Regions from separate parts of the Homo sapiens genome. Here region 2 is linked to region 1. The links come from fine-mapping of genetic effects on gene expression. A gene starts in region 1. The other region holds a variant in brackets. All regions are shown on one strand. Distances are from middle to middle. Region 1 holds the start of SEC31A (SEC31 homolog A, COPII component). Region 2 overlaps SEC31A (SEC31 homolog A, COPII component).

Region 1 (14,948 bases):
GAAGTGGCTGTCTCATCGTGGTGTTTGCCTTTTCTTAAGGACTCAAAAGTTTGCAGATACAGGCATTCACTTGCCATTTTCTTAAGGTAGAGTTGAAAGTACTGCTGCCAGTTCATCATCTGAAATGAGGGCTGTTTTCTTTCCTGTTTAATTGGATTGCAACTATTTGCCTTTCCTAAAGATGAAATAGTGTGCTTCCTACATTATTCTGACAACATTCCTTTAATTGTTAATTTCAGATGAATTTCTGAAAACTGCTTTTATCAGAACAGATTTACTTAAATGAAGGCAATAGCCGCAAGGGGTCACTGCTCTAGATATTTACTTCTGCATAGGAAATAAGTAATCCTTTATAGATGGAATTTTTTTTTCTTAGTTGTATTTTTGTATCTTTACATTTGTTTATAACTTATCTATACTTTTTTTGTTGTTGTGATTATTTTACTGTTGACATGGAAGTTCTCAATCTGATCATTTGGTTATATCATTGCTTCTTCTAGTAACTTCATATCCAGTGATTAAACCTTTTCACTGCTGTTCACATAATGAACCGTTGTGATTATTGAATACTTAAATGAGGATATGTAAGCTGTATTAAAGATAGTGTTATTTGCAAAGGCATTGACTATTGCACAAAAAATTTTAAAAGAAAATATCTCTTTTCAGGAATTGTACTCTCAGAGATGTTGAGAAAAGATACATGGGTCTTGGAAGATAATTACTCAAAATATGCAGGGAAGGTAGTATATCTTTCTATTTTAAATGTATTAAGTATTCCTGGAACTATAGCAGTGAGTTGGAAATGGAGGATTGTCCAAGTAAAAAACATTTATTAAGGCTTTAATGAAATCTACCTATTTTATGGTATATAATCTCATTAATTGTCCACTTGGAAAGAATAATAACAGATATTTATTTATTGGCCAGTTACTATGGGCCACAAATTATGCTGAGCTTTTTTTAATTTCATTTCATTTTATTTTATTTTTTGAGATGGGGTCTCACTCTGTCACCCAGGCTGGAGTGCAGTGGCGCAATCTCAGCTTATTGCAACCTCTGTCTTCCAGGCCCAAGCAATCTTCCCACCTCAGCTTCCTAAGTAGCTGGGACCACATGCATGTACCACTACACCTGGCTAATTTTTTTTTGTATATTTGGTAGAGACAGGGTTTTACCATGTTGCCCAGGCTGCTAAGCTTTTTATATACAGTATATAGAAAGAGTTGGTTTTCTTAAACAATATTTATTTCTCATAATAACTCTATGAAAGCAGGTATAGACTTCTTGCTTTCTAGGGTTGGTATCTTGCTTGTTGAGGACCTACCCTTTTGTGTTGCCGAATTTTTCATTGTTTGAGTTCTGTCTTTTGTTTCAGAAAGCCATGGAGTTTTGAAATTATTGTTATATCATTATTTGTTACATAATTATTTCTACTTCTAGAATCTCATGCTAACTTGGAAGTGTCTTCTCAGCATCAAGCCTGATATGGAGGGGCAGCTACACCCTAATACGCTCCAAAACTAGTTATGCTTTGTTTTATACGTAATGCTTCTGTTATTAGACAAGTGGTTTCCAAATATCAGAAGCAGTGCTAGGACTTAAAGGAAAAGGGGGAGTGTTTTTTCTTCTAATAGAACTTTTGAGCAGTGATGAAAGGAAAACAAGAAGACTCAAAAGATTATAAATCTCAGGCACGAATTAGTGTTCTGCCAATTAGGAACATTCTGATTGCTTGACAAGGTCTATATTTTGCTGATGAGGAGTAGAAGCCTGTGGGAGGTGGGGGTGGAAGCAGCAGAAGGAAAAGAGTAGCAAGTATTTAGTAAAATGTATTCATCATAGTGGATAAAAATCAAGCTTTGGGGAAAAAGGTCAAACTCCTTCAATGATGCTGTACATCTGTACCTTTACTCCATCCTATAGCAAATATTTGTATAACTGCACAGAAGAAATTGGACAATATTCCTTGAAAAATTCTTAGAAAGTTCAACTTTCCAAGTTAGTATCACCCCAAGGAAAATTATATGAGTAGGAATACCTAATTTCTAGCCATACTCTAGTTCCAATTAGCTTCTCTAAGTAGCTGGAACTGCAGGCGTGTGCCACCACACCTGGCTAATTTTTTGTATTTTTGGTAGAGAAGGGGTTTTGCCGTGTTGCCCAGGCTGCTAAGATTTTTATATATAGTGTATAGAAAGAGTTGGTTTTCTTGGCCAGGCATGGTGGCTCGCACCTGTAATCCCAGCACTTTGAAAGGCTAAGGCAGGTGAATCACCTGAGCTCAGGAGTTCAAGACCAGCCTGGCCAACATGGCGAAACTCCGTCTCTACTAAAAATACAAAAATTAGCCGGGCATGGTGGCACGCACCTGTAACCCCAGCTACTTGGGAGGCCAAGGCAGGAGAACCACTTGAACCCAGGAGGTGGAGGTTGCAGTGGGCCAAGATTGGCCACTGCACTCCAGCCTGGGTGACAGAGCAAGACTCTGTCTCAAAAAAGAAAGAGTTGGTTCTGTTAAACAATATTTATTTCTCATAATAACCCTATGAAAGCAGATACAGACTTCTGGCTTTTTAGGATTGGTATTTCACTTGTTGAACACCTACCCTTGTGTCAGATGTATAGCAGGTTAACAAAGTCAATACAGTGATACACTTGACATAATCTTTGTTCTGAGTTTTTTTCCCAATTATAGTAAAATTGGAGGTCTTAACTGTTCTACATTAGATAAATATATGCATTTGTTTTAAAGAGCTAAGCAATGAGAATCTTACAACTAGAGCTGAAGTTCAAGAAATAAATGTCCAATGATTAAATTTTTTCCACTGCTGTTCACATCATGATTTGTTGTGATTAATGTATGTGGATGAGGACATAATAGAAAAAGAAAATGATGAGACTTGTATATATTGTGTTTCTGCACAATGAGTTCCTTTGAATGTTTTTCGTTTTAGGAATAAAATTGAAGGGTGTTTTTCTTAGAGAACATCATTTGTCATATTTATTTGATCAAGAAGTTGAAGATTTATATAATAAGGTATGGGACTTACACATTTATTTTGATAAAAGAACACAGAAAAGGTCAGGTATGAGCAGAAAATTGACATTTATTTCAGCCTAATGTGGATACTGTACTCTGAATTAAAAATTTCTTTTCCTTACTCTTCCAGCTTTTAAAGATAAGTATTATTTCAAAATAGTATTTTTTTAATTAATAGATTCAATTCAGGAAAGGCATTGGAGGGGGTGGAGCTTTTAACTTTGACAGTCTCACTCTGTTGCCCAGGCTGGAGTGCAGCGGCGCAATCTCTGCTCACTGCAATCTCTGCCTCCTGGGTTCAAATAGTTATTGTGGCCCAGCTTCCCAAGTGGCTGGGATTAGAGGCGCATGCCACCACACCCAGCTAATTTTTTTTATTAAGTAGAGACCATGTTTTGCCATGTTGGCCAGACTGGTCTCAAACTTCCAGCCACCAACCTCAGCCTCCCAAAGTGCTGGGATTATAGTCATAAGCCACCACACCTGGCTGTTGGTTATCTTTTCTTAGAAATAATGATATAATCTTTTCAGCACCTGATATTCTTAAAGATCCAGGGTTTACAAATGACTGTTAGATATGCCAAGGATGACTAGCCTATAACTTAAGGATCTGTTCAGGAACAGTAGAAAAGAAGGTGATAGGAAACTGGGAATCTTAAATCTAATACTAGTTCTGTCATGAATTAGGCTTGTTATTGTAGTTGTTTCTCAAATTTAAGAAAATATGAGGGGTCTTGAAAAAGTGCATGGAAAATGCATATCATGAAAAAACTATGCATGGATTTCAAAATTTTTGGACCAAAATAAACTCCTACTAACTTGTTATAACATGTCTGAACAGGATCTAGTTTGAAGCACTAAGAAGAATAAGACATCAGTTTGAAAAGAGGCTCTATCAGAACAACACGAATTCTGCTAAAATTGAAGCAAGAACAAACATCAAATATATGTTGACACTTGGGTGGAAGAATGGTGAACTAATTGATGCTTTATGAAAAGTTGATAGGGACAGTGCTCCAAAGAAATCAGTTTACAAATGGATAACTCGTTTTAAGAAGGCATAAGGTAATGTTGAAGAAGAAGCCCACAGTGGCAGATCATCCACATCAGTTTGTGAGAAAAAAGTTAGTTCATGGCGTAATTGAAGAAAACCAACAATTAACAGCAGAAACAACAGCCAACACCATAGACATCTCAGTTGGTTCACCTTACACAATTTTGACTGGAAAAGTTCAGCAAACTTTATACCTGATAGGTACCAAAACCATTGCACCCAGATCAGCTACAGACAAGAATAGAGCTTTCAATGGAAATTTTAAATAAGTGGGATCAGGATCTTGAAGCCTTTCATTGAAAAATTGTAACAGGAGATGAAACATGGCTTTACCAGCGCAATCCTGAAGACAAAACACAAAGCAGTGGTTACCAAGATAAGTAGTTCAGTTAAAGCACAAGAGGACTGGTTGAGAGCAAAGGTCATGGCAACAGCTTTTGAATGCTCAAGGCATTTTGCTTGTTGACTTTCTGTAGGGCCAAAGAATGGTAACGTGCTTATCATGGGAGTGTTTTGAGAAACTTAGCCAAAGCTTCAGCAGAAAAATCCCCGAGAAAGACCAGAGAGTTCTTCACCACAACAATGTTCCTGCTCATCCCTCTCATCAAACAAGGCCATTTTGCAAGAGTTTTGATGGGAAATCACTAGGCATCCACCCTACAGTCCTGGTTTGGCACCTTCTGACTTTTTGTTTCCTAATCTTAAAAAAATTTTTCAGGGCAGTACATTTTTCTCAAGTTAATGTATAAAGAAACTGCATTGATGTAGATAAATTCCCAGAACTCTCAGTTCTTTAGGGATGGACTAAATAGCTGGTATCATCACTTACAAAAGTGTCTTGAATGCTATAGAGCTAATGTTCAAAAATATAGTTTATATTTTTTATCTTTTAACCATTTTTCCACAAACTTTTTGAAGTCTCCTTGAATATGTACCATTTATAAAGGGGAAAAATTCTGTGACTACTCATGTTGACTTAATGCTGACTTAATTTTCTGTTTTGTAAATATATACAAACAAGTTGATACAAATTTTGTTTATAGCCCTTAAACAAATTTGTGAAATAAATGCATTCAGAAACAAACTAAAACAATGAAATGGATGCTACTGTTTTACTGAGGTGTAAGCATAGTACTGGCTGCTATGGAAAAAGTTACATAAACATTCATGTATCTTGTGATGATTGTTTTGTCTACAACTTCACTCTTTGCAGACATCAAGACTGTTGAAATGAGGGGAAGGGATCTGAATTCCCAAAAGAATGTCAAATGGGCATGGAGGCTCATGCCTATAATCCTTGCACTTTGGGTGGCTAAAGCAGAAGGATCCCTGGAGGCCAGGAGTTCCAGACCAGTATGGGCAACAAAATGAGTCCCTGTGTCTACAGAAAATAAAATAATTAACCAGGCATGGTGTTGTGTGCCTGTAGTCCTAGCTACTTGGGAGGCTGAGGTGGGAGGATCACTTGCGCCCTGGATGTTGAAGCTGCAGCGCGCTGTGATCATTGCCACCACACTCCAGCCTGGGCAACACAGCAAAAACCTGTCTCTAAAAAAACCTAGAATATCTTTGTGCTATGCAAATCCTAATTTGAAAAATTTGTCATTAAATTCTCTCCAAACATTCTTCTAGTGAGCAATTCAGTTTTTATTTGATTCAGGATTAGGCTTGGATAGTAGTTAACTAAATTGGATTTAGTTTTGTGAACTAAAGAGTTTTTCTTTTTTTAGATACAGGCAGTCTTTGCACAGTTCCAATATGCATAAATACCAGTGACCACAGTTAAATAAAACCAGTCCAACAATGTGGTTAATAATTCCATTACCACAGTACTGAGAAAACTTGCATAAATTTTGCTGCTAGCTCTTTAGTCCACAAATCATTGTGCCCCCCCCCCCAAAAAAAAGATGTGCATCATGATCAGTCGCCAGTTACATTACTTTGCTTTCAAAGTTTGTTGATTTGTTACTGATCATCTGTTTAGTTCATGCACAGATAGCAGAGCACAAAGTGCATAGTACTGTTGCCTCCTTGACCCCAGAGATTAAACTTGTGACCATTTATAAAAATGGATAATTAAAAGAGGTAATTGGTCAACAAAGGACAGAGCAGCAAAGAAAAGTGATAATGCTGGAAGTGAAATTGGATGTGATTAGATTTGAAAGTGGTGACAGCAAAGCAAAGATAGGTTGAGACCCAGACCTGCATGAAGCTGTAATACAAGCCTATTGAAAAAGTCTGATAAATGTAAAAAGGTAAAGTTGCTTCAACGTCTTTCAGTTTTAATTGCACTAGGAACAGAAAGCTGCTTGCGGTTGAAATGGAGCATTTACTTGTTTGAATTGAAGACTAATCAAAAACAAATCCCAATCAGTTTGACTAGCATTCAGGCCAAAGTGATAACCTTAGTTACTGCGTTGAAAGAAAATGGTAATTAGAAGACTGAAAGAGAATATATTACTACCAGTAAAAGTTGGGTTCATTATTTCAGAAGTTGGCGTGAATTGATGTTAAGCTGTCTTATGAAGCTGCAAGCTTCAGATGGAATGTTACAGAAGATGTAGCTGACTGTGGGAATGTTAACACTGCTGCTGTTCAAGGGGCAGGATCCTTCTGCTTTAGCTACCCAAAGTGCAAGAGTTGGCTTTGAATGCTAGATGTAATGAGAAAAGAACTTGTCTAGAAGTTAGGAGATCTGGGTTGAATCCAATTTCTGGTAATTTAGCAAGTGATTTTCCTTTGGCTTCACCTTGCTGTAAAATAATTCCTCCCTAAACTAAAAGTACACTTAGGCAACGCATCTAATTAGATTTGAGGTTGTGGAGAAACAGTGGCAGAAGGTGAGTGCTACCGGGTCTCAATACCATGGGATAGTAACAAGTATGAAACGGTACTAATTGGAATTAATATAACACCCCATCTATACCTCTTTGTCCACAATAGCCTTTGGGAATGCCCAGATTGTTTCACTTTGTATAAGTTCTCAAAACGCCAGAATGTGCAATCAAGTGGGTAATTTTAAGAACTCAGTCACAAATTACAATAAAGCCCTTGCAGCCCGATTTTCCACCTGGTTTGGCGCGGGCAGTGTCGCCAGGGGCTGCCGACGCCTCACAGGACTAGTGCTACGTGGCGTTCCTGCGGGCCACGGCGGTTATTCGGCCAGACGGGGACACCCTCTGCACTAGTCCTTTACCCACTAGTCCTGGCTACCCCATCCACATTCTGCGCGCCGCCCCTCAGAAAAGGGTTTCTACGATCGCCGGGGCGCGATGACCGCAGAGCGCCACCAACCAGCGGAGCCGTACCCCGCCTCCCAGGCTACCGCCGGTCCCGGAAGTGCCGTGGCGGGCTGTGCGTCGGGTGGGCGGGGAAAGATGTCGCTCCCGGAAGTGTTGGGCGCAGGGCGTGGCTGCGGCTGCGGCTGCCACGTTGGAACGGAACGTGGAGGTGGCCCTGGCCGGGGAGGAGGGGCGGCGGCGAATGCTGGGAGAGTCCGACGAGCGCTGCACTAACGCAGGATCCGGCTGCCGAAGGTCCTCGCCAGGTGCGTCCGCCCGTTGCTTTTTGTCCTCTTCGCCGGTCCTTAAGCTTTGAGGTAGAGCCCAGGCCAAAACTGGGACCGCAGCCTGGGTCTCCGCTGCCCCGCACCAGCCTGAGGCCCGGTCTCTGGTGACGGCGCGCCCCTAGTCTTGGTTTCGGGCCCGGCGGAACAACGCCTGGCATCTGGACTCCAGTGATCGCGCCCGTCCGCATTCGCCGACGTCTCCACTGCTGAGCAAAAGCCACCCGAGGCTGGCGACAGTGTCTTGCCGGGGAGTAGTAGCCGGGCTGGTAACTGGAGTTTGAGATTAGGAGACTTTCAGACCCTTGTGCACAAAGAGGTGCGGTCCCCGAGGGTGAGGAGAGGAAAAAAAATCTCAGGATTACTTTGGCTTTGGTTAGGATTTTTTTTTGTACTTGAACTATTGCCAGATTTAAAGGTTCATAGGTTTGAACTGACGTCTACTGTCATTTAACTAGGATTATTTTAAGGACGGTGGTAGCCAGGCGCAGCCTGTACTTTGAGGGCAGTCTCATTAAGTGTTACATGTTTTTGCTAATAAGTTGTTAAATTACGGGGCTGTTGTAAAATAAACCAAAATATTGCCTGGACTTGTGGGCATTATAAATTTTTTCTTGCGCTTAAGGAATTAATTTTACGTAGGGCTATTTGAAGTTGCAGTGATCTGATAGTCTGTGACAAATCCTTTCTCCTAACTTATTTTTTCTAACTATAGAAAACTGAAATTTGGTTGTCTTTGTGGGCAGTTATAACTGTATTTAATCGATAAGGGTGTGTTCTTGTTACAGCGTCCTGCGTTTTCTGTACCTCCGTTTATTCAAGAGTTGGCAAAAGCTTACTCTCCTTTTTTTTTTTTTTTTTTTTTTTTGAGACGGAGTCTCGCTCTGTCACCCAGGCTGGAGTGCAGTGGCGCGATCTCAGCTCACTGCAACCTCCGTCTCAGCCTCCTGAGTAGCTGGGATTACAGGCGCCCACCACCACACCTGTCTAATTTTTGTATTTTTAGTAGAGACGGGGTTTCACGCTGTTGGTCAGGCTGGTCTGGCACTCCTGACCTCAAGTGATCCGCCCGAGTTGGCCTCCCGAAGTGCTGGGGTTACAGGCATAAGCCACCACGCCCAGCCTACTCTCCTTTTTTAGTGGTTCTTCTGTGCTCCTTGTTTCTCACTATCCCTTAATTAACAGCTCAGGGAGAGGTTTGTAGACTCTTAAGAACTTTTGGATAACTCGTAGTGTTTTTGTAGTTTTGTAGTGATTTTATCTTAAATACGTCCGCGGTTATTTGTGAAATTTGAAATTTGAGGTGGATTTATAATGATATTGCTTAATTTTATATAAGCAAATTCTTTATTGAAACCAATAACATGGGAATAGAAATAAATTTGTAAACTGTGAAGAGCAATGATTCAAAATTTTGGGGGGATTTCACTGTCTTACGGGAATCTAATGAAAGCATTGGAAGAATGCACATATACACACATGTAGGATTTTCTTTTTTTTTCTTTTACTTTTTTTTTTTTTTTGAGACAGGGTCCCTCTTTGTTGCCCAGATTGGAGTGCAGTGGTGCAGTCATAGCTCACTATAACCTTGAACTTTTGGGCTCAAGAGATCCTCCCGCCTCAGCCTCAGAAGTAGCTAGGAATATGCACGTGGCGCACGCCCAACTAATCTTATTTTTTATAGAGATGGGGGTCTCACTGCGTTCCCCAGGCTGGACTCAAGCTCCTGCTTTCAAGTGACATGTAGGATTTTCTATATACATAATATTATGAAGTTTACAAGTTAAAAACTCCTGTAAGGGGATATTACTAGATTGATTTACATTGATTACATTGTTGTTAGGAATGTCATTAGGTTAATTTCAGCTCAAAAAGTTTTATTATACTGAAGATTAGTATGACACCAATTAGTTCAGTAACCAGTGCACAGTTGCTTTCTCCTTTGATTTGGTTTGGGTTGAGTGAAATGAACCTAGAACATTGAAAATACTAAATAAATCCTCTAAACAATTGTTTCTATCCATATTGAGATATTTTGCCTGCAGAAAATGGATTTTTACTGAAAGCAGTGCCAACTAGGGATTGTATACCTGGTTTGGGAATCCAAGTTCCAATTCTATTACCTCTTTAACTTTTTACTTGCTTTCTGAGTTATGGATCAGCTCTGTATATAGCATTGCAAGGTTGGTATTTTTCAAAGAACAGTGCTGGTGGGTTTTAGTATTGCTTCACAAAATTTACACTTTGAAAATGAGCAGAAATAAAAAAGTTTCCACCTAATTGAATGCAATTATTGAGAGAAAGTTGCATGAAAAATAAAGAGTTCTAGTCTAGAATATAAATTTTCCTCAAGAAATTTTTTTTTTTTTTTATTTTTTTCTGAGGCAGAGCCTCGCTCTGTCACCCAGGCTGGAGTACATTGGCGCGATCTCGGCTCACTGCAAACTCCGTCACCTGGGTTCAAGCGATTCTCCTCCCTCAGTCTCCCGAGTAGCGGGGACTACTGGCCGCGCCATCACGCGCAGCTAATTTTTGTATTTTTAGTAGAGACAGGGTTTCACCAGGTTGGCCAGGATGATCTGGATGTCTTGACCTCGTGATCCGCCCGCCTCGGCCTTCCAAAGTGCTGGGATTACAGGTGTGAGCCACTGCGCCTGGCCGTGTCTGTGTGTATATATATATATGTTTTTTGTGTGTTTTTTTTTTTTTTTTTTTTTTTGAGACGGAGTCTCGCTCTGTCTCCCAGGCTTACTGCAACCTCTGCCTCCCGGGTTCAAGCGATTCTTCTGCCTCGGCCTCCTGAGTAGCTGGGATTACAGGTACACACCACCACGCCCGGCTAGTTTTTGTATTTTTTAGTGGAGACGGGGTTTCGCCATGTTGGCCAGGCTGGTCCCGAACTTCCGGCCTCAAGTGATCTGCCCACCTCGGCCTCCCAAAGTGCTGGGATTACAGGCATGAGCCACTGCGCCTGGCTAATAGATGTTTTTTTTGTTGTTGTTTGTTTGTTTGTTTGTTTGTTTTGAGACAGAGTCTTGCTCTGTCACCCAGGCTGGAGTGCAGTCGCATGATCTCAGCTTACTGCAAGCTCTGCCTCCCGGGTTCACGCCATTCTCCTGCCTCAGCCTCCCGAGTAGCTGGGACTACAGGCGCCCGCCACTGCGCCCGGCTAATTTTTTGTATTTTTAGTAGAGACGGGGTTTCACCGTGGTCTCGATCTCCTGACCTCGTGATCCGCCCGCCTCGACCTCCCAAAGTGCTGGGATTACAGGCGTGAGCCACCGCGCCCGGCCTAATAGATGTATTTTTGAAGTTTCGTGGTGGTAGACGTTTTAAGTAGTGATGTTTGTAATAACTGTCATTTATGAGCATTTGTTTATATATGCCAGGCACTGTTCTAACCACTCTGAGTAATACCACTTATTTCTCACAACAACCCTGTAGTATAGATACTGTTCTCCTTATTTTAATGAGAGAGGAGCCAGGACATACATGGATAAAGCGACATGATTAAAGTCAGAGGTGGACATAGTGAAGCTGGAATTTAAACTGAGGGTGTCTGCCCTAGACCCCATGCTCTTAATTGCCGTGCTATAGATACTGTCTTGGAGATGGCATGTATGAACAAGCCCACACAATTTTCTTTTCCTTTCTTTTTTCTTTTCTTTTCTTTTCTTTTCTCAATGTTTTCTTAGAACATTGAGTACTAAGGCTAAGAAATAAACTTTAGTAAATGCTTTGAATTCACATTTAACTATTTTATGTTCTTATAAATGTGTCTCTTTCTTTTTCAGTCAATGTTACACATTAACCAAGCATTAATGAATTAGGTAGTCCTTGTACTTAGGTCTTAGAAATACTATAATTGTATTCCATTTTTTTAATAATACAGCTATTTTGATTTCACTTTTAGAAATTATTCTGAAGGCATCTTATAACCTTTTCCCCCTTAACCATACTTTCTCCTTTTTTAAAAAGTAAATGATCCTTTAAAGAGTTAAGAATTTAAAAGTAAATGTTTTATCTGAAACTGGTCACTCTAGCTCATTAGTCTACTTGTTTTCCCCTAAATATAAACATTTAAAATAAATCAAAACTTTCTGTATATCTCCTTCTGTGCTAAGCAATTTTGAGTCTAAAAAGGGGTAAAAGTTTTGAAAAAAGACGTTATTTGTCTAGTTGGTGAGATAAGATAGCACATAAGGCAACTGGTTAAAAAAAGGTAATTGGAAAATATGTAAACAATATGTGCTAGTAGAATGTTACAAAATGTTTATTAAAATATAATGACGTTATTATAAAATGCTTAAATCATAGTATTGACAAGTACAAACTTGTCGGGGAGTATTTAGATCAATGTGGATTGAATCATCAGGGCAGTTTTCATGGAGGAGCTGGAACTTGAATTTATTATTAAAGATCAGGTGAGACAGTTGGCAAAGAGGAAGAAGAGGAGATTCATGTAAGAAAATAAATGCCTTTTTTATATCTTAGAAAGTTGGAATTTTTCCCCCCAAATAACCCTGAAGTTTTCTTGTTTAATCTCATGATAGTGGTAATCTTTAAAAATAGCAAACCTATCAAAAGCACTAACCCATGTGCTGAGCACTTTTTTTGGCTCCCTATTATAAAACGTATGATCTCATTGGAACCTCACAGCATCCCATGAGGTTGTCACTCTTTTCCCTATTTTACGAATGTAGAAACTGGGGCTCAGGGAGGTTAAATAATGTGTCCAAAGTATCATAGCTAATAAGTAACAGAGCCAGTAGTTAAATTGAGGATTAACTCCAGAGACCATGCTTTTAACCATGTGATACATCCTGCCTCCTAATCTCACTTTGCTCTAACCTAACACAATTTCTAAAATGCATTTCTTCAGTTTCATCATGCATGCTGGTTGCTTTGTTATTGTTTCTTCTAAATGTTAATATTTCCTCTATGATATAAAAATTGAATACCTGAACTTGTTGGAAGTAGAAAGAACTCTGGAGCTAAACTTGCAAGTTCCAATCTTGGCTCTGCCCCTTGCCCCCTTGCTAGCATGTACAGATTGTCTAACTTTCTGTGTCTTAATTTTTTCCTCTATAAAATCTCCTTCAAATATAAACAATTTGCAGGTACAAGACTCGGAGCATATGTTTAAGGCAATCTTAAGGAAAATGTTAGAGGATAAACTCTGGAGCTGAGTAAGGAAACTGGCAAAAATACTCTTGGAGAGCATTGAGTATGCATTTTAACTGCAGGACTGAGACTGGAACAAAAGTGAGAATGAGGAAGAAAGAATAAAATGTAAATGTTAAATGTCCAATAATGTAAGGGATTGATTATACAACTAATAAAAAGAGAAGAGGAAAGAAATTGGAGGTAGAATAAGTTTGTGAATTGCCACATCTGTAATGGCTATGAGTCAAAGGACATCATTTAAAGCTGACAGATCAGTTAGTAGAAGTATAAGGAGTTCAAAGGTAAACACTGAGAAAGATAATACTATTGACTATAACCATGTTGTGTGGATGGGCAGTAAGATTATACAAGCTAATTTCATAAGTGCTCATAGTAGGGAGTTAATAGTTTCTGTGTAAAGAAATAGAGGATTAATGGTATTAAGTAAAATATTTAAAATTACAGTTAAAAAGATAGAATCAGAAACACATATTATAATGAAAATATACATCATCCTAATTATCAGAAAAATGGTAATTGCACAAAAAAGAAAACAGACAATGAAAGACTTTTTAAAAATTATTACCCAAAGATATTAAACCAAAGTAAAATATGGTAAAACTAAGACCAACCATGTCTGTCATGTCAATACATTTTAAATGTCCTTAGCTAACCTACTGTGAAAAGATTTTCAAATTGGATCACCAGTAAAATCTGTTGGTTTTTTGTTTGTTATTTTGTTTGTAATGATGACAAAGTAGTTCTGAAGGGCAAAAGTATACATGTAAAGGCAAACAAGAGGTGGAATTCAGACCAAAAGTCATTATTTGAGACAAAGAAGGATATTCATAAAGCTAAAGTGTATATTTGACAGTGAATTTGAACATTATGGATATGCACCAAATAACTATTAAATAACAAAGTAATTTTCATAAAGCAAAAGTTTCAGGAGATACCATGAGAAATTGACATAAATATATTAGCAGTAAGAGACTTAATTCACTGTTTCGGTCCAAGGCAGATCAAGTGGACAAAAAAGTAAGGATATAGGAGATCTAAACAAATCAATAAAGAGGACTTAGTTAATATATATTGAGCTCTAGGCCCTGAAAACAGAGAGCACCCCTTCTTTCTAGGTCCCAAGAACAATTCACAAAAATTCACTATATAGGCTCTATTGAAAGGAAAGGAGGAATTATAGGCATAGGGGATTTTAGGACAAGGGAACTACTCTGTGTGATACTATAATGACAGATACATGTTGTTATACATTTGTCAAAACCCATAGAATATACAACACCTAGAGTGAGCCCTCATATAAATTGTGGAGTTTCAGTGATAATGATGTGTTCATGTTAGTTTATGGATCGAAACAAATAGACCTTTATGATGTGCGATGTTGGTGGTGAGAAAGGTTATGTGGTTGGGAAATGTGTAGCAATTTTTTGTACTTTGTGGCTCAACTTTTCTAGGAACGTAAAACTCTAAAAGATAAAGCATATAGCTTTTTTTATTTTTAATCAAAATCCTATGAAAGGTGAAAAGAAATTTTTTTTTTGAAAAAAGCAAAGTCAAAAGATAGTCTATCAACTTAATAGAAAAATTGTCGAATGATGGCCGGGCGCAGTGGCTCACCCCTGTAATCCCAGCACTTTGGGAGGCTGAGGAAGGTGGATCACCTGAGGTCAGGAGTTCGAGGCCAGCCTGGCCAACATGGTGAAACCCCGTCTCTACTAAAAATACAAAAAAATTAGCCTGATGTGGTGGTGTGTGCCTGTAATCCCAGTTACTTGGGAGGCTGAGACACCAGAATCGCTTGAACCCGGAGGCAGACGTTGCAGTGAGCCGAGATCGCCCCACTGTGCTCCAGCCTGGGTGACAGAACGAAACTCCATCTCCAAAAAAAAAAAAAAAAGAATAGAAAAGAAAAATGGTCAAATAATACATGACTAGACAGAAGAGATGACAGAAAAGGAAATATGTTTACCCATAGTCATACAAAAAAAAGATGTTATACATCATTTATAGTATTACTATACAGAGCTAACATTTTTATTTTTCTCTTTTTTTTTTTTGAGTCATGGTCTCACTCTGTCGCCCAGGCTGGATTGCAGTGGCGCAAT
Region 2 (15,514 bases), 23 kb after region 1:
GCAGGTGGATCACCTGAGGTCAGGAGTTTGAGACCAGCCTGACCAACATGGAGAAACCCCGTCTCTACTAAAAATACAGAATTAGCCGGGAGTGGTGGTGCATGCCTGTAATCCTAGCTACTCGGGAGGCTGAGGCAGGAGAATCACTTGGACCCGGGAGGCGGAAGTTGTGGTGAGCTGAGATTGCACCATTGCACTCCAGCCTGGGCAACAAGAGCAAAACTCCATCTCAAAAAAAAAAAAAAAAAAAAGAATTTATCCATATAATTTTTAAAATAATATCTTGCATTAAAATTAATTTGTTCTCAGTAGACATCTTTTGTCTTTGTTAAGTAGAATTTTATGTTTTTCTAGAAAACTTTAAATTTTGAAAGAATTATGCATAATTTAGAAATTCATGCATATGTTTTTCACTTTTCAAATTAAATAGAAAAATTGTGTATGCTACATCTAATATCTTTCTAGCTCTGAACTGAGTTATTCTGAATTTTCTTAATTATTCATAAGTGCTATTTAGTTATGGTTTCTTCTTGCAGACTAATCTGGTAGCTTCTGGTGCTAATGAATCTGAAATCTACATATGGGATCTAAATAATTTTGCAACCCCAATGACACCAGGAGCCAAAACACAGGTATTTTTATATTGATTTTGATCATTGTAATCAAAAAAGCCAAAAGTAGTTCTCCTAAACCTACTTATTTCACTTTTAAGGCTTCTCACACAAAACATATATGTTTAAAATCATTGTTTAGATATTACTGATTTTTCTTCAGTAATTAATAAATATGTTTCTTCAAAGTATCAGTGAGTCCATCAAGAGTAAATATTTATTTAGTACCTACCACCTGGTAGACACTGGTCATTGTACTAGGCATACAGTAGTAAACAAAATGAACAAAAATCCTTAATAATTGTCTTAGATATAGTATAATTATTTTTGTTCTTTGTGTGATAGTTGCTCTGTGTTTTGGCAACAACCAACCTTCTTAAAACACACTTAGACAAGACCATGGAAGACAAGGTTTAAAATAAATACCTCAAGCCCTTTGCTTGTGTATTTCTATTAAGTTTGGTAACAACAGTCTTCTCCTGTTCTTCCCTGAGTTTCTTTATGTTGTATAGGCTATCCAACTTGAGTAGCCATTGTAACTGGCTCTAACATTTTGGCAATCTGAGAGGTAGCATAATGACAGCATATGCACTACCATTTATAAAGGTATTTTGCTAATGGTCTAGGCTGTAATTTTGCCCTGCCTAGTTTTCTGTCATAGTCACCAACATCTACTTTGTGGTCCATAATCTACCTTGCAGCAGTTGCAAAGTAAAGAAACAGTACTTGGTTTATAGCAGAAATTCAATAAAATTCTTGTTGAATGAGATATTATGAAACAAGATAATACACTTGAAGTGGTATGTACCTGCATTTTAAGTCATATAATTTTATGTGTTGAGAATGTAGAGATGTAGGACTATAAAGCAAATTTGTGGCATAAATGGATCAGATTTTTAAGTAATACACTTTTCAAAATGAAGGATCCAATTTTACAGTTAAATTTGATTATAATAGAGAAACAAGCAGTTTTTATTAACTGTTTCTTCCTTGTAGCCGCCAGAAGATATCAGCTGCATTGCATGGAACAGACAAGTTCAGCATATTTTAGCATCAGCCAGTCCCAGTGGCCGGGCCACTGTATGGGATCTTAGAAAAAATGAGCCAATCATCAAAGTCAGTGACCATAGTAACAGAGTAAGTATGTGATTGACTTGTGATGAACATGTTGTATTTCTGCTGTAGGTATTCCTATATTGTTTGTCAGAGTTGACAACAAATCAAATTTCTGTGAAGTCAAATCCTGTTTTTTTATTAATCAGTCATGTTAGAAGGAATGTTTTGTTTTTTTTCCTCTAAGGGAAAATCATAAAATTCCCAATAAATATGTTGGATATTATTAATGATGAAGAGAGATTGGTTAATCAAGGAACTTATTCCATGATATACTGGTGGTTTTGCTTTGCTAGCTGTTTTAAAACATTGCAGCAACTTTTTTTTTTTTTTTCTTGAGACGGAGTCTCGCTTTGTCGCCCAGGCTGGAGTACAGTGGCGTGATCTCGGCTCACTGCAACCTCTGCCTCCTGGGTTCAAGCACTTCTCCTGCCCCAGCCTTCCGAGTAGCTGAGATTACAGGCATGCACCATCAAGCCCGGCTAATTTTTGTATTTTTGGTAGAGATGGGGTTTCACCATGTTGGTCTGGCTGGTCTCAAACTCCTGACCTCGTGATCTGCCTGCCTCGGCCTCCCAAAGTGCTGGGATTACAGGCATGAGCTTCTGTGCCCGGCCATTGCAGCAACTTTTTAATTCATCTTTAACTTTTCTTAGAATGTAAAAATTTTTCCTGCTGGAAGCTTCATCACTGTGAACTTGTAATATTTGACTTCTTGGCCTCATCTCTTCCTCTGATTAGGTACTGCTAAAATGAGCTAATATATTTTCGGCACTTACCCATAGAGCACATTAAATTCTGAACCTTTTAGGTATCTTTATTTTTTTATGTCATTAGATGCCATAAAATAATTTAGATATAATTTGGAGCTTTTTTTGTTTGTTTGTTTATGAGTACATTGGATAGTTTGACATTTTCTAAAATAAGTTTGCCAAAAGTCAGGCATACATATGTAGTTTAAAAACAACAATAACAACAAAAAACTATTTGGGAGAACACTTCTTCAGAGTATTGTTTTCAAGTGAATCAGGAGTTTTAAAACAGAAGTTTCAATGGAATAAACCATACCAGAAGCATTTTAGTCATTTTGTGGAATATTTAATAGAATTTGAACTTGCAGATAGTTCCTAATAATGTTAATTTATTCCATATGAAAATTTAAATGGTAGTTTTTGCTTCAGATATTTTGCCTTGATTTTTCTGATAAAATAGAGGAAAAGTATGGGGTTTTTTTGTGTCTTGTGTGTGTGTTAATTTTTTTAAGGGTTTTTTTTTTTTTGAGAGGGACTCTCACTCTGTCACCCAGTCTGGAGTGTAGGGGCGCAATCATGGCACTGCAACCTCCGCCTCCTGGGTTCAGGCAATTCTCCTGCCTCAGCCTCCTAAGTAGCTGGGATTACAGGCGTCCGCCACCATACCTGGCGAATTTTTGTATTTTTAGTAGAGATGGGTTTTACCATGTTGGCCAGACTGGTCTCAAACTCCTGACCTCATGATCCACCCGCCTTGGCCTCCCAAAGTGCTGGGATTACAGGAGTGAGCCACCACGCCCAGCCTGTATGTGTTAATCTTTTATCTGTTTTTTGTTTTTCGTTTTTCTGAAAGTATTTTAAATGTGCATAAAATGTTTTCTCTACTGGCCGGGCGCAGTAGCTCAATCCTAACACTTTGGGAGGCCGAGGTGGGCGAATTGCCTGAGCTCAGTAGTTCAAGACCATCCTGGGCAACATGGTGAAACCCCTTCTCTACTAAAATACAAAAAATTAGCCAGGCATGGTGGTGTGTGCCTGTACTCCCAGCTATTGGGAAGCTGAAGCGGGAGAATCGCTTGAACCTGGGAGGCGGAGGTGGCAGTGAGCTGAGATCGTGCCACACTGCACTCCAGCCTGGGTGACAGAGCGAGACTCCATCTCAAAAAAATAAATAAATACAATGAAATGTTTTCTCTAAACTTATATAGTTTTGATAGTAAAACTCATTTTTGGTATACAGTTATTCTGACTCAGAATGGTTTTGTGTGTATCAAATAGCTGCATGAATTGAGAAAATATTCAAATATCTTACTTTTAAGACTACTGTTTAAGACTGTTCAATAAAATTTAGTAGTTTTACATTTGTTTTTGTTTTGTTGTTTAAAATAAACTAAGGCCAGGCGCGGTGGCTCATGCCTGTAATACCAGCACTTTAGGAGGCCGAGGTGGGTGGATCATTTGAGGTCAGGAGTTCAAGACCAGCCTGGCCAACATGGTAAAACCTCATATCTACTAAAAATACAAAAGTTTGCTGGCATGGTGGCTTGCGCCTGTAATCCCAGCTACTCAGGAGGCTGAGGCAGGAGGATCACTTGAACCTGGGGGAGGTGGAGGTTGCAGTGAGCTGAGATGGCGCTACTGCACTCCAGCCTGGCTGACAATAAATAGATCATAAATAAAATAAGCCACAGCTGATGTTTTTCACTATTTGTTTCAATAAAGGTATATTTCTCGTTGTAGTTTGGCTTTTCATAAAGTAATTTGATTCATAAAATGTGAACCTTAACTATCTTCAGATGCATTGTTCTGGGTTGGCATGGCATCCTGATGTTGCTACTCAGATGGTCCTTGCCTCCGAGGATGACCGGTTACCAGTGATCCAGATGTGGGATCTTCGATTTGCTTCCTCTCCACTTCGTGTCCTGGAAAACCATGCCAGGTATCGTGCTGCTGTTACAAAGAACTTGATTTGTTTATTTTCTGAACATGTCGGTGATGTTTTCGTGACCAGAAATACACCATAGGACACAGGAACTTTTTTTTTTAGATGGAGTTTTGCTCTGTCACTTAGGCTGGAGTGCAGTGGCAAGATCTTGGCTCACTGCAACCTCTGCCTCCCAGGTTCAAACGATTCTCCTGCCTCAGCCTCCTGAGTAGCTGGGATTACAGGCGCAAGCCACCATGCCAGGAAATTTTTATAGTTTTATAAAAATTTTATAGCTGGGATTACATGCATGCGCCACCACGCCCAGCTAATTTTCATAGTTTTAGTAGAGATGGGGTTTTACCATGTTGGCCAGGCTGGTCTCAAACTTCTGACCTCAAGTGATCTGCCCACCTTTGCCTCCCAAAGTGCTGGGAATACAGGCATGGGCCACCGTAGGAACTTAATGTTTATGTCAGTTATCAGTTAGTCTATGGTAAAATTGGTTTTGTTATCCATTGTTTTGCTTAAAGTCACAGTTCCTAAATTAAGTAACGACTTACTGCAGTTAGATTTCATGCCCATCCATAGGTAAAACATTTTACTGTACCTACGTTACTTGTGTGTGTGTGTGTGTGTGTGTGTGTATGCATGTATAATCCCAATATAATTTTTATACAAATAGGATAATTTGTGCATATAGTTAGATAACTTTTTTCGTTAATCATGAATACCATATAATGGTAAGAAGTTGATTTCCACAAAATGATACGTATATATTTTGAGATGGGGTCTTGCTGATTTGCCCAGGATAGAGCCACCATAGCTCACTGCAGCCATGAGCCTCTGGGCTCAAGTAATCCTCCTGCCTCAGCTTCATGAGTATGCCTGGAACTACAGGCACACGCCACCATAACTGGCTGATTTTCAAATTTTTTGGTAGAGACAGAGTGTCGTTATATTGCCCAGGTTGGTCTTGAACTCGTGGCCTCAAATAATCCTCCTGCCTTGGCCTCCCAAAGTGTATAGAATAATTTTTATCTACATATTTTCTCATGGAAGGGTGGTCTGTAATTTATTGTGAAATAGTCTGTTGGGCATTTGTTTTCACTTTTTTGCTGTCATACACTGCACTACATTGAACATCCATGTATTTGTAATGATCAGATAGCATATACGTTACTAAGTTGCTTCTGAAAATATTGCATTTATTTTATTTTTATTTCTTTTTTTGTTTTTCTTTTTTTATTTTATGTTGAGATAGAGTCTCACTCACTCTGTTGCCCAGGCTGAAGTGCAGTGGCTCAATCTCAGCTCACTGCAGCCTCCACCTCCCAGGTTCAAGTGATTCTCCTACCTCAGCCTCCTGAGTAGTTGGCATTACAGGTGTGAGCCAATGCGCCCGGCGCTGAAACTCTTGCATTTAATTGTATTTCTGTTAACAATGTGTGAATCTACAAAACCTAGGCAGAAATAGTTGAGATTTGGTTTTCTCAAGATTAAAAATTTCCTTGTTCCTTTATGTTTTTTATAGGGGG[A/G]TTTTGGCAATTGCTTGGAGCATGGCAGATCCTGAATTGTTACTGAGCTGTGGAAAAGATGCTAAGATTCTCTGCTCCAATCCAAACACAGGAGAGGTATGGGCAGGAAATGTGTCTCAACCTTGTAGCCCTTATAGTATGTTACTTCTGGCTACATAAGAAATTTTCTGTGTGGATTCTTTAGTGGATTACTATGTGAAGAGTATGTGGACGTGTGTGTGCAGTGTTTATTTGGCAGCAATTTTATCAGGAACATAATCTAAACTCAGCTTTTTAACCAGAAAAATCAGTAATTCAAATAGTATATTTTAAACTAGTAACCATCCCCTCCTCATTTCCAATAATGTGTTTATTACCTAGACTCAGAAATACTTTGATTTATTTCACATGTGGTTTATGGGAATCAGTATCTTCGATGTAGGATTGTTCAAGGTTTGCATCTTTTGCCTGCTTTACCGTTCCTGAGGATCCTCTTTCACTTCTGGAAATCAGTAGATACAGTTTTCCAATCTCTCTTCTGAATGATAAAGCAAGAATATAAATTATAGCTTTTATATTTTTACCTTTTTTATGTGAAGGTAGATGATTGCTAGTGCTTATGTAGTTTGATGGAATGCTAATAAAAATAAAGAGTGTCTTCGATAAGTTTTCATCTATATTGTTAAAATTAAAACAAGCCCTTTAGTTATTTGGTTTCTGGTTTAAGAGTTGTGGATGTAACAATATAGAATCATTAACATTAGGGGAGACAAGAGAAAAAAAATTAATAAATTTTACCGCATATCATTTGTAGGACAGATAACAAAAATCTTAATTTTACACTGTGCCTTGCCAAGTAAATTCAAAATTCATGGAACTTACTATTCTGTTATCATTTTCTCTGTAATATAATTTAATTAGATGAATTTTTGCCTGTGATTAGTTGTGTGTGCTTGGACTTTGAAGGAAGAGACTTTTAGTACATGCTACAACTAAAAAATTGGATTTTGTTGGCCGGGTGCAGTGGCTCAGGCCTGTAATCCCAGCACTTTGGGAGGCTGAGGCGGGCAGAGCACGAGGTCAGGAGATCGAGACCATCCTGGCTAACACGATGAAACCCTGTCTCTACTGAAAAAAAAAAAAAATACAAAAAAATTAGCTGGACGTGGTGGCGGGCGCCTGTAGTCCCAGCTACTAGGGAGGCTGAGGCAGGAGAATGGGATGAACCTGGGAGGCGGAGCTTGCAGTGAGCCCAGATCGCACCACTGCACTCCAGCCTGGGTGACAGAGTGAGATTCCATCTCAAAAAATAAATAAATAAATAAAAATTGGAATTTGTTCAAATGCAAATAAAGGATAGATAAATCATCTAAGTTTTATCAAACCACACATCTTATCAAACAAAATAAATACCAAAGACGTGAGCAGGCTAAATACCTTTTCAATTAATTCTATTTTTTAATAAAATGAAACATTTTAAATGTCACGTGGGCCACTTGTGGTGGCTCAGACCTGTAATCTCAGCACTTTGGGAGGCAAGGCAGGCTGGTGAAACCCCATCTCCACAACAAATACAAAAATTAGCTGGGTGTGGTGGCGTGTTCTGTAGTCCTAGCCACTCGGGAGGCTGACATAGGAGGATCGCTTGAGCCCAGGAGGTCAAGACTCCAATGAGCTGTGATTGCGCCACTGCACTCCAGCCTAGTCATCAGTGTGAGACCCTGTCTCAAAAATAAAAAAAAGAAAAAGGAAAAAGAAGGTCACATGAAGCCAGAGTTAAGTTCATTTGACTTATCATAAAGTCCTAAGATGTTGCTTCTGTGAGTAGCAGTTAACCACCATACTAACTTTGAGTTCACAACAAGGATTACATTGTGAAGGTTTCATATAAGCCATTTTCTATTTATTTATTTATTTTTTTTAGTACTATTAATTATTTTTTTGTCAGGGTCTTGCTGTGTCTCCCAAGCTGGAATGCAGTGGCACCATGACGGGTCACTGAAACCTTGACCTCTTGGGCTCCATCAGTCCTCCCACCTCAGCCTCCCAGCTAACAGGGACTACAGGCGTGCAGCACCGTGCCTGGCCAATATTTTGTATTTTTTTGTAGAGATGGGGTTTTGCCATGTTCCCCATGCTGGTCTTGAACTCCTGGGCTCAAGCATTCTGCCCACCTCAGCCTACCAAAGTGCTAGGATTATAGGCGTGAACCACCATGCCCAGCCTCATGTAGGTCATTTTCTATAGTTCTTTCTCTGTCATTTTCTTTCTAAAGGAAGCTGTTAATGCCGAATTCTGTTAGGATTCTGCAGTGATAGGAAGGTTGTGTATAGTACATGTTTTCTCTCGTGATTAAAAGTCAGATTTCTTAGTGAATTCTTCCTTCTCAAGATTGATTTTAAAATTTGATCCTCAAGTAACCTAAATATGGTTGTTGTTTGGGTCTTACCAGACAAAAACAATTGGACAGGACATCACTAATCTTTTAGAGTTTAAAAAGTTGGCCCTAGGCCGGGTGCGGTGGCTCACGCCTGTAATCCCAGCACTTTGGGAGGCCAAGGCGGGCGGATCACTTGAGGTCAGCAGTTCAAGGCAAGCCTGGCCAACGTGGTGAAACGCCATCTCTATTAAAAATGCAAAAATTAGCCGGGCATGATGATGGGCGCCTGTAATCCCAGCTGCTTGGGAGGCTGAGGCAGAATAGTTGCTTGAGCCCAGGAGGTGGAGGTTGCAGTGAGCTGAGGCTGCTGCCATTGCACTCCAGCCTGGGCGACAGAGCGAGACCCTGTCTCAAAAAAGAAAAAAAAAAGTTGACTCTAATAGAGTGTGCTGGTCTTTCAAATGCATCCATTATTTTGAACACAGAAAAGCCTCAGTTTTTAAAATGCGTTTATTCAAATCTGATTGAAATTTTAAGCTGCATTCCTGTTAATCAGAATAGGTCATCGTAATGGATCATTCTTGCACTTTAAAAAATCTTAGTATTCTTTTTCCTGGCTAAAGATACTTTCTACAAAAAAATATTCAATTTAACTATACTTGTTGACCACATTAATTCAGGTGTTTTGGTTACAAAGTGGCCATACCATTTTCTGAGTTTTGTTGTTTGTTTTTTGTTGGCCTAGGTGTTATATGAACTTCCCACCAACACACAGTGGTGCTTCGATATTCAGTGGTGTCCCCGAAATCCTGCTGTCTTATCAGCTGCTTCGTTTGATGGGCGTATCAGTGTTTATTCTATCATGGGAGGTAGCACAGATGGTTTAAGACAGAAACAAGTTGACAAGGTAATAGGAAGTGTTAAAGTTTTCTATTATAATGCCTGAAAAAAGTATGTGTTGTGTAATATTTTGAAATGACTTCACTGATTAACAATGCTGGTTAATTGGACAATTGTGATCAAAAATTTTTTTGGATATGACTGGAAAAAAATGAAACTTTGTGTATGGTCGGATGCTTATGTTATTATTATCTTTTTTAGCTTTCATCATCTTTTGGGAATCTTGATCCCTTTGGCACAGGACAGCCCCTTCCTCCGTTACAAATTCCACAGCAGACTGCTCAGCATAGTATAGTGCTGCCTCTGAAGAAGCCGCCCAAGTGGATTCGAAGGCCTGTTGGTGCTTCTTTTTCAGTAGGTGGATTTTGTTTTTATGGTCCATAGGCACAAAGGACTTTTTATACCAAAGTGTTATTATAGAGTCACTCTGATGGAAGCAATCAGGGTTTAAGTTGGGATTTGAGATGTACTTGTGGGTATTTCATCATTCAAAATGGTTTCTCTGAAAAATTGGAACCTACTCTTTTTTTTCCCTTTTTTAAAAATCATGGTAAAATATACATAAAATTGATCATTTTGTTCATTTTTAAATATACAGTTCAATGGCATTAAGTACATTTACATTGTTGTTGTGTAGCCAACACTTTATATTCCTCCCCTCCTCCATTTTTTTGTTTGTTTGTTTGTTTTTTTGAGACAGTCTCACTCTGTTGTACAGGCTGGAGTGCAGTGGCACAACCTTGGCTCACTGCAACCTCCGCCTCCTTGGTTCAAGCGATTCTCCTGCCTCAGCCTCCTGGGTAGCTGGGATTACAAGCACGTGCCACCACACCTGGCTGGTTTTTGTATTTTTAGTAGAGATGGGGTTTTACCATGTTGACTGGCCTGGTCTTGAACTCCTGACCTCAGGTGATCCACCCGCTTCGGCCTCCCAAAGTGCTGGGATTACAGGCATGAGTCACTGCACCCGGCCCTCCTCCCTTTTAAATTTGTCTTCCTTCTCTCTCTCTCTGTCTCTCTTTCCCTCCCTCTGTCTCTCTTTCCCTCCCTCCCTCCCTTCTTTTTCTTTTCTTTTCTTCTTTTTTTCTTTTCTTTTTGCAGGGAGTGTCCTCCCTCTTCTTCATCCTTTTAGCTTTCTTTTTTAATTGCCAGCTTTTTTTAATGGTAAAAAATGCATAATATAAAATTTTAATTGTAAAAAATGCATAATATAAAATTTACTATCTTAACCATTTTAAAATATACACTACAACCATTTTTAAATATATACTACAGTAGTGTTAACTATATACACGTTGTTGTGCAACAGATCTCTAGAACTTTCTCATCTTGCAAAACTGAAACTCTGTGCCCTTGAACAACAGCTCCCCATTTCCTGTTTCCCTTGAATCCCTGGTAACCACATTCTACTTTGTTGCTAGGAGTTTTCTACTTTAAATTACTCATATAAATGGAATCATGCAGTACTTGTCTTTTTGTGGCTGGCTTATTTTACTTAGCTTAATGTCCTCAAGGTTTATCTGTGTTGTAGTGTGACAGAATTTACTTCTTTTTAGAGGCCAAATAATATTGCATTGTATATATATATATATATATATATATATATATATATATATATATATATACCACATTTTTTTTTATCCATTCATTTGATGGTCATTTTGGTTGCTTCCACCTTTTGGCTATTGTGAATAAATGCTGTGGTGAACATGGGTTTGTAATTATCATTTTGGGATCCTGCTTTCAGTTTTTTGGGACATATACCCAGAAGTGGGATTGCTGGATCATAGGATGGTTCTATTTTTAAGTTTTTGAAGAACCTCCATACCATTTTATAGCCGTTTTACCATTTTACATTCTCACTAGTGGTGCACAAGGGTTCTAGTTTCTCCACATCCTCTCTAGCACTTTTTGTTTGTTTCTTCCTTTTACATTGCTGATACCTTGCCTAATTCTTTCATGCCAAACTTCTAATAGCTTGATTTCATATTTGTTGCTTGTCTTTTCCCCCTCTAATCTCTACTACATATTCCAAGATTAATCTTCCTAAAATGGACCTTTGAATATGTTTTATGTCACTCGTAAGTCTGTTCTTTGGATCTGCTTAATCTTCTCATCGTCCTATCTGGTCTTCTCTATCTGGGTGGATCACTTGAGGTTAGGAGTTCAAGACCAGCCTGGCCAACATGGTGAAACCCTGTCTACTAAACATACAAAAGTTAGCCAGGCATGGTGGCCGGCACCTGTAATCCCAGCTACTCAGGAGGCTGAGGCAGGAGAATCACGTGAACCCAGGAGGCAGAGGTTGTAGTGAGCCAAGATCCCACCTTTGCACTCCAGCCTGGGTGACTAAGAGCGAAACTCTGTCTCAAAAAAAAAAAAACCAAAAAACCAAAAAAGTACATTTCATCTAGAACAGAAATTGAAGTGGTGTCAGACTGTGGCGCATGAGAGGTTGTATCAACTAATTTCATCCAGATTATCTGTTTAGGCCACTTTATAAGCACTTTTTTTGGCCATATCCTTGGGTTAACACTGAGTTTGTTCATTCTCTCTTTTATAGTTTGGAGGCAAACTGGTTACGTTTGAGAATGTCAGAATGCCTTCTCATCAGGGAGCTGAGCAGCAGCAGCAGCAGCACCATGTGTTCATTAGTCAGGTTGTAACAGAAAAGGAGTTCCTCAGCCGATCAGACCAACTTCAGCAGGCTGTGCAGTCACAAGGATTTATCAATTATTGCCAAAAAAAAATTGATGCTTCTCAGACTGAATTTGAGAAAAATGTGTGGTCCTTTTTGAAGGTAAAGTTGCTGTTTAAAGCTATATTATTTCATTATCTGCAAATTTAACTGTTCCTTTATATTCTAAATCTGTCCTCCTATTAAAGAAACAATTGAAAAAGTGTGATTTCAGCAATTCATCATGAAATTAAGAAGCCTTATAAAGAGCATACAACCTAACTTATGTCCAGAGTTTTTCCTTCTCTGCTTTGAAAAGTGTAATATGAAATACATTTTTAATAAGTAAAAAAAAATAATAATAGGTCTGTTTAGAGGAGAGCGACATAGTCAGCACACCTATTTTGAAGATGAGTACATAGAGTTTACTATAATGAAAACAGAATATTTAACATCTATAGTAGATCTAGTTAAGGAAAATGAAAAAAGAGGAAGAGGAATAGAGGAGAGAGGTTGGAGGCATTTTTCCTTTTACTTTAAGAGGAGTTAGATTAGAATAACAAATAGAATTTCCTGGTTGGTCATTTTGCCTCCACTGGAATGTCTGTTTCTTTATACGGTACTGGTTTTTCAAAGGTAAAGCAGTCTTGAATACAGTTAGGTTAAAGTATAAAATTAAAGAATTTATATTTTGTAATAATTTTGGGAAAGAATTTTAGGACATAGAATATTCCACATAGTTTGAGTTTTGTATCAGTTTAACCTTTGGACATAAGTTTGTATTTACAGAAATTACTGTTCAAAAGTAAGCTTTATTCAACCAGGATAATTAATTACTAGTATATTTACTATTAATAAATAACTTATTTAAAAAAATAATTCTGGGCACATGTTCTCAGGACCTCCTGAGGCTGGGTCTCCAAATAAAAAACAAAAAAACCCACTATTCTTTGGATTCCTTCAAACAGTGAATCTTTAGAATGTAGACTTCAGATATTTTTAATAATTCTCTTTGGAATTTGATTCATTCTTATAAAAATTCGGCCTTTAAATGTAGGTCTTTGTTTTAAGAATATGTCTTTTTTTTTAAAGGTAAACTTTGAGGATGATTCTCGTGGAAAATACCTTGAACTTCTAGGATACAGAAAAGAAGATCTAGGAAAGAAGGTAAACTTTTGGGAAAGTTAGATGGCATGCTCTTTATGAATCATACTTTTAAAAAATAAAGTTCTACACAGATTATCTCAAATCACCCAATAAACATTTAATAATAATTTGTGTTTGGTTGCCAGCGTTTTTTCCCTTTTTCTTTTTCTTATTCTCCATCATTACCCACAGTGGTTGCCAGAGTTTTGAATACATATTGATAAATGACTATGTAACTTGTATTAGCCTTTCATCATTCTTTGGAAATGGCTAGAGTTTTCTATAGCATTGCAGGTTGTTGCATGTGTGGTAGAGGTATACTGTGCACTTTAAGTGCATATTGAAGATTAGTGCTCTTTTGATGTCAGGCAGAACTAACTAAGATCACATCACAACCCCACTGCTTAGTGGCTATGTCTTTGCTCACTCCTTTAGAGTTTTATATTTAACTTTATTAGTAGTCTAAACTTCTTGAGGCTGTAACTTTTTTAGGCTTGTAAGAGATTGATATGAAAGTTTTACTTGCATGCCTGATGGCAAAAAATGAGGAAATAGAATGATTGTCGGATTATTTCTAATTACTTCCATGTGAAAGAAGCTAGCACCATGGAGAACCAGTTCTGCATAGCTTTTTTAATTTTTTTAAACATACTATTCCTATAAGAACTTTTGTGGATTTTCGCCAGTGAGAAGCAAGAGGTGAACATTTGCTGGATGCTCTGAAATAGAATTCCATGTAGTAGGTGAGCTGTTATTTTTATTTCAGATTGCTTTGGCCTTGAACAAAGTGGATGGAGCCAATGTGGTAAGAAGGCCTTTAAAAATAGCTACCTTCTAAAACTTTGGCTAGGTCATAACGAAGAAGGAAATATCATTTAAGAAATTTGTGTTTTATGCTTTATGGTATAAAAATAAATGCTTATTCTAGATATTTTAATAAATTAATAATTCTCATTTTAAAATAACATGAGCTTAGCTGGTAGAGCATTCCTTTCTCTTGACATACATATTTGAATTTTGTAAAGCAGGAAAAACAGAATTAATGACTACTCAAATACTTAAGATAAAATTTTTTTTTTTTTTTTTGGCCAGGAAAAAAAAAATGGTAGGAAAGAATGGGAAAGTGGGCCGGGTGTGTTGGCTCATGCCTGTAATCCCAGCACTTTGGGAGGCCGAGGCAGGTGGATCACCTGAGGTCAGGAGTTCAAGACCAGCCTGACCAACATGGTGAAACCCTGTCTCTACTAAAAATACAAAAATTAGCTGGGCGTGGTGGCACATGCCTGTAATCCCAGCTACTTGGGCGGCTAAGGCAGGAGAATTGCTTGAACTGGGAGGCGGAGGTTGCAGTGAGCCGGGATCGTGCCACTGAACTCCAGCCTGGGCGACAGAGTGAGACTCGGTCTCAAAAAAAAAAAAAAAAAAAAAAAAAAGAATGGGAAAGTGTTAGCAGTAATAGTTCTTTGCTTTTCCTCTAATGGTATTTCTCAAATAAATTTACTCACTGTTGCTTCTTATGATTAAACTAGCTCTGAATGTTGTTGGTTGGGTCTTTTGTCTTCCTGGTTCACTAATAGCCTTTTAATACTACATTCTTCACCTTCCCCTGTAATTGTTTTGTGTACCAAAGGCTCTTAAAGACTCTGACCAAGTAGCACAGAGTGATGGGGAGGAGAGCCCTGCTGCTGAAGAGCAGCTCTTGGGAGAGGTACTTATTTTTTTTTCATATTATATTGGACAAATTTGTGATATTTGTGTATCTCACATTAAAATAAGGAAAATTTTCTTGACTACTTATGGCAAAATAAAGTTGAAGTAAATTGTTTTCTTTGAGATGTTTAGGATAGGAATCTATCTACCTATACTGACAGAAGTATCATCTCCAGACTCTAGTTCTCCAACCTTGTTTCTGGATTATATGGTTTAAAACTAACAGTTGATGTGAGATTAACATAATTTGGTCAGATGACTCTCAGGATGTCAAACTGAAAAGAGATTTTATTCAAACATCCTCACTGCATTGCATTGCATGTAAAGTTAATGTTTTTCTTGGCCTATAATTTTGGGCCAACTATCAGTGGCTAATAGGCCTCTGAATTAGTACTGAACATGGAGTTGAAGTAAAGGATATTTCACTAAACTTATTGTCATGATTTTCAATAAATGTGTCCTTAGTTGATAATTTTTGTAAATAATTGAGAAGAGTCCTTGAACACAGAGTTACATCATTAATTTTTCCTTTTAATTTTCTGGGTGTTTTTTTTTTTTTAACCACTAATGAACAAATCTGTAATTTACTTTTCTTGCTTTCTAATTTTATTTCATCTTGGAAAATTAATCAACAAGTTCTTCTCATCTCATCTTTGGCTTTTTCATTGTTCTTTGTGATATCTTGACTATGGAATGTTATGTATAATTTTTTACTAAGTTATAAAAATAAGTAAATTTAGTCTATTACAAGATGATTGCAAAAATCATTCTCCTTAGAAGTGGA

Evidence for each region.
Region 2: its variant is fine-mapped to the expression of SEC31A in whole blood (TOPMed, PIP above 0.99).

The regions. Positions count from the first base shown.
Region 1 is chr4:82,883,781-82,898,728 of GRCh38, reverse strand. It overlaps SEC31A (SEC31 homolog A, COPII component), which reads left to right and starts at 7,576. Exons shown (of 27, transcript NM_001077207.4): 1 at 7,576-7,641. It overlaps THAP9-AS1 (THAP9 antisense RNA 1), which reads left to right. Exons shown (of 4, transcript NR_034077.1): 3 at 2,955-3,037; 4 at 3,882-5,277. SNORD143 (small nucleolar RNA, C/D box 143) reads left to right here and starts at 2,801; the gene lies at 2,801-2,876. SNORD144 (small nucleolar RNA, C/D box 144) reads left to right here and starts at 504; the gene lies at 504-589.
Region 2 is chr4:82,860,845-82,876,358 of GRCh38, reverse strand. SEC31A (SEC31 homolog A, COPII component) reads left to right here. Exons shown (of 27, transcript NM_001077207.4): 5 at 537-632; 6 at 1,608-1,748; 7 at 4,273-4,415; 8 at 5,935-6,034; 9 at 9,043-9,204; 10 at 9,399-9,551; 11 at 11,761-11,997; 12 at 12,967-13,041; 13 at 13,787-13,825; 14 at 14,651-14,728. Among named protein-coding and RNA genes, the nearest start is that of SEC31A, 23 kb to the left of the region's middle. The variant A/G (reference allele first, on the strand shown) is at 5,939.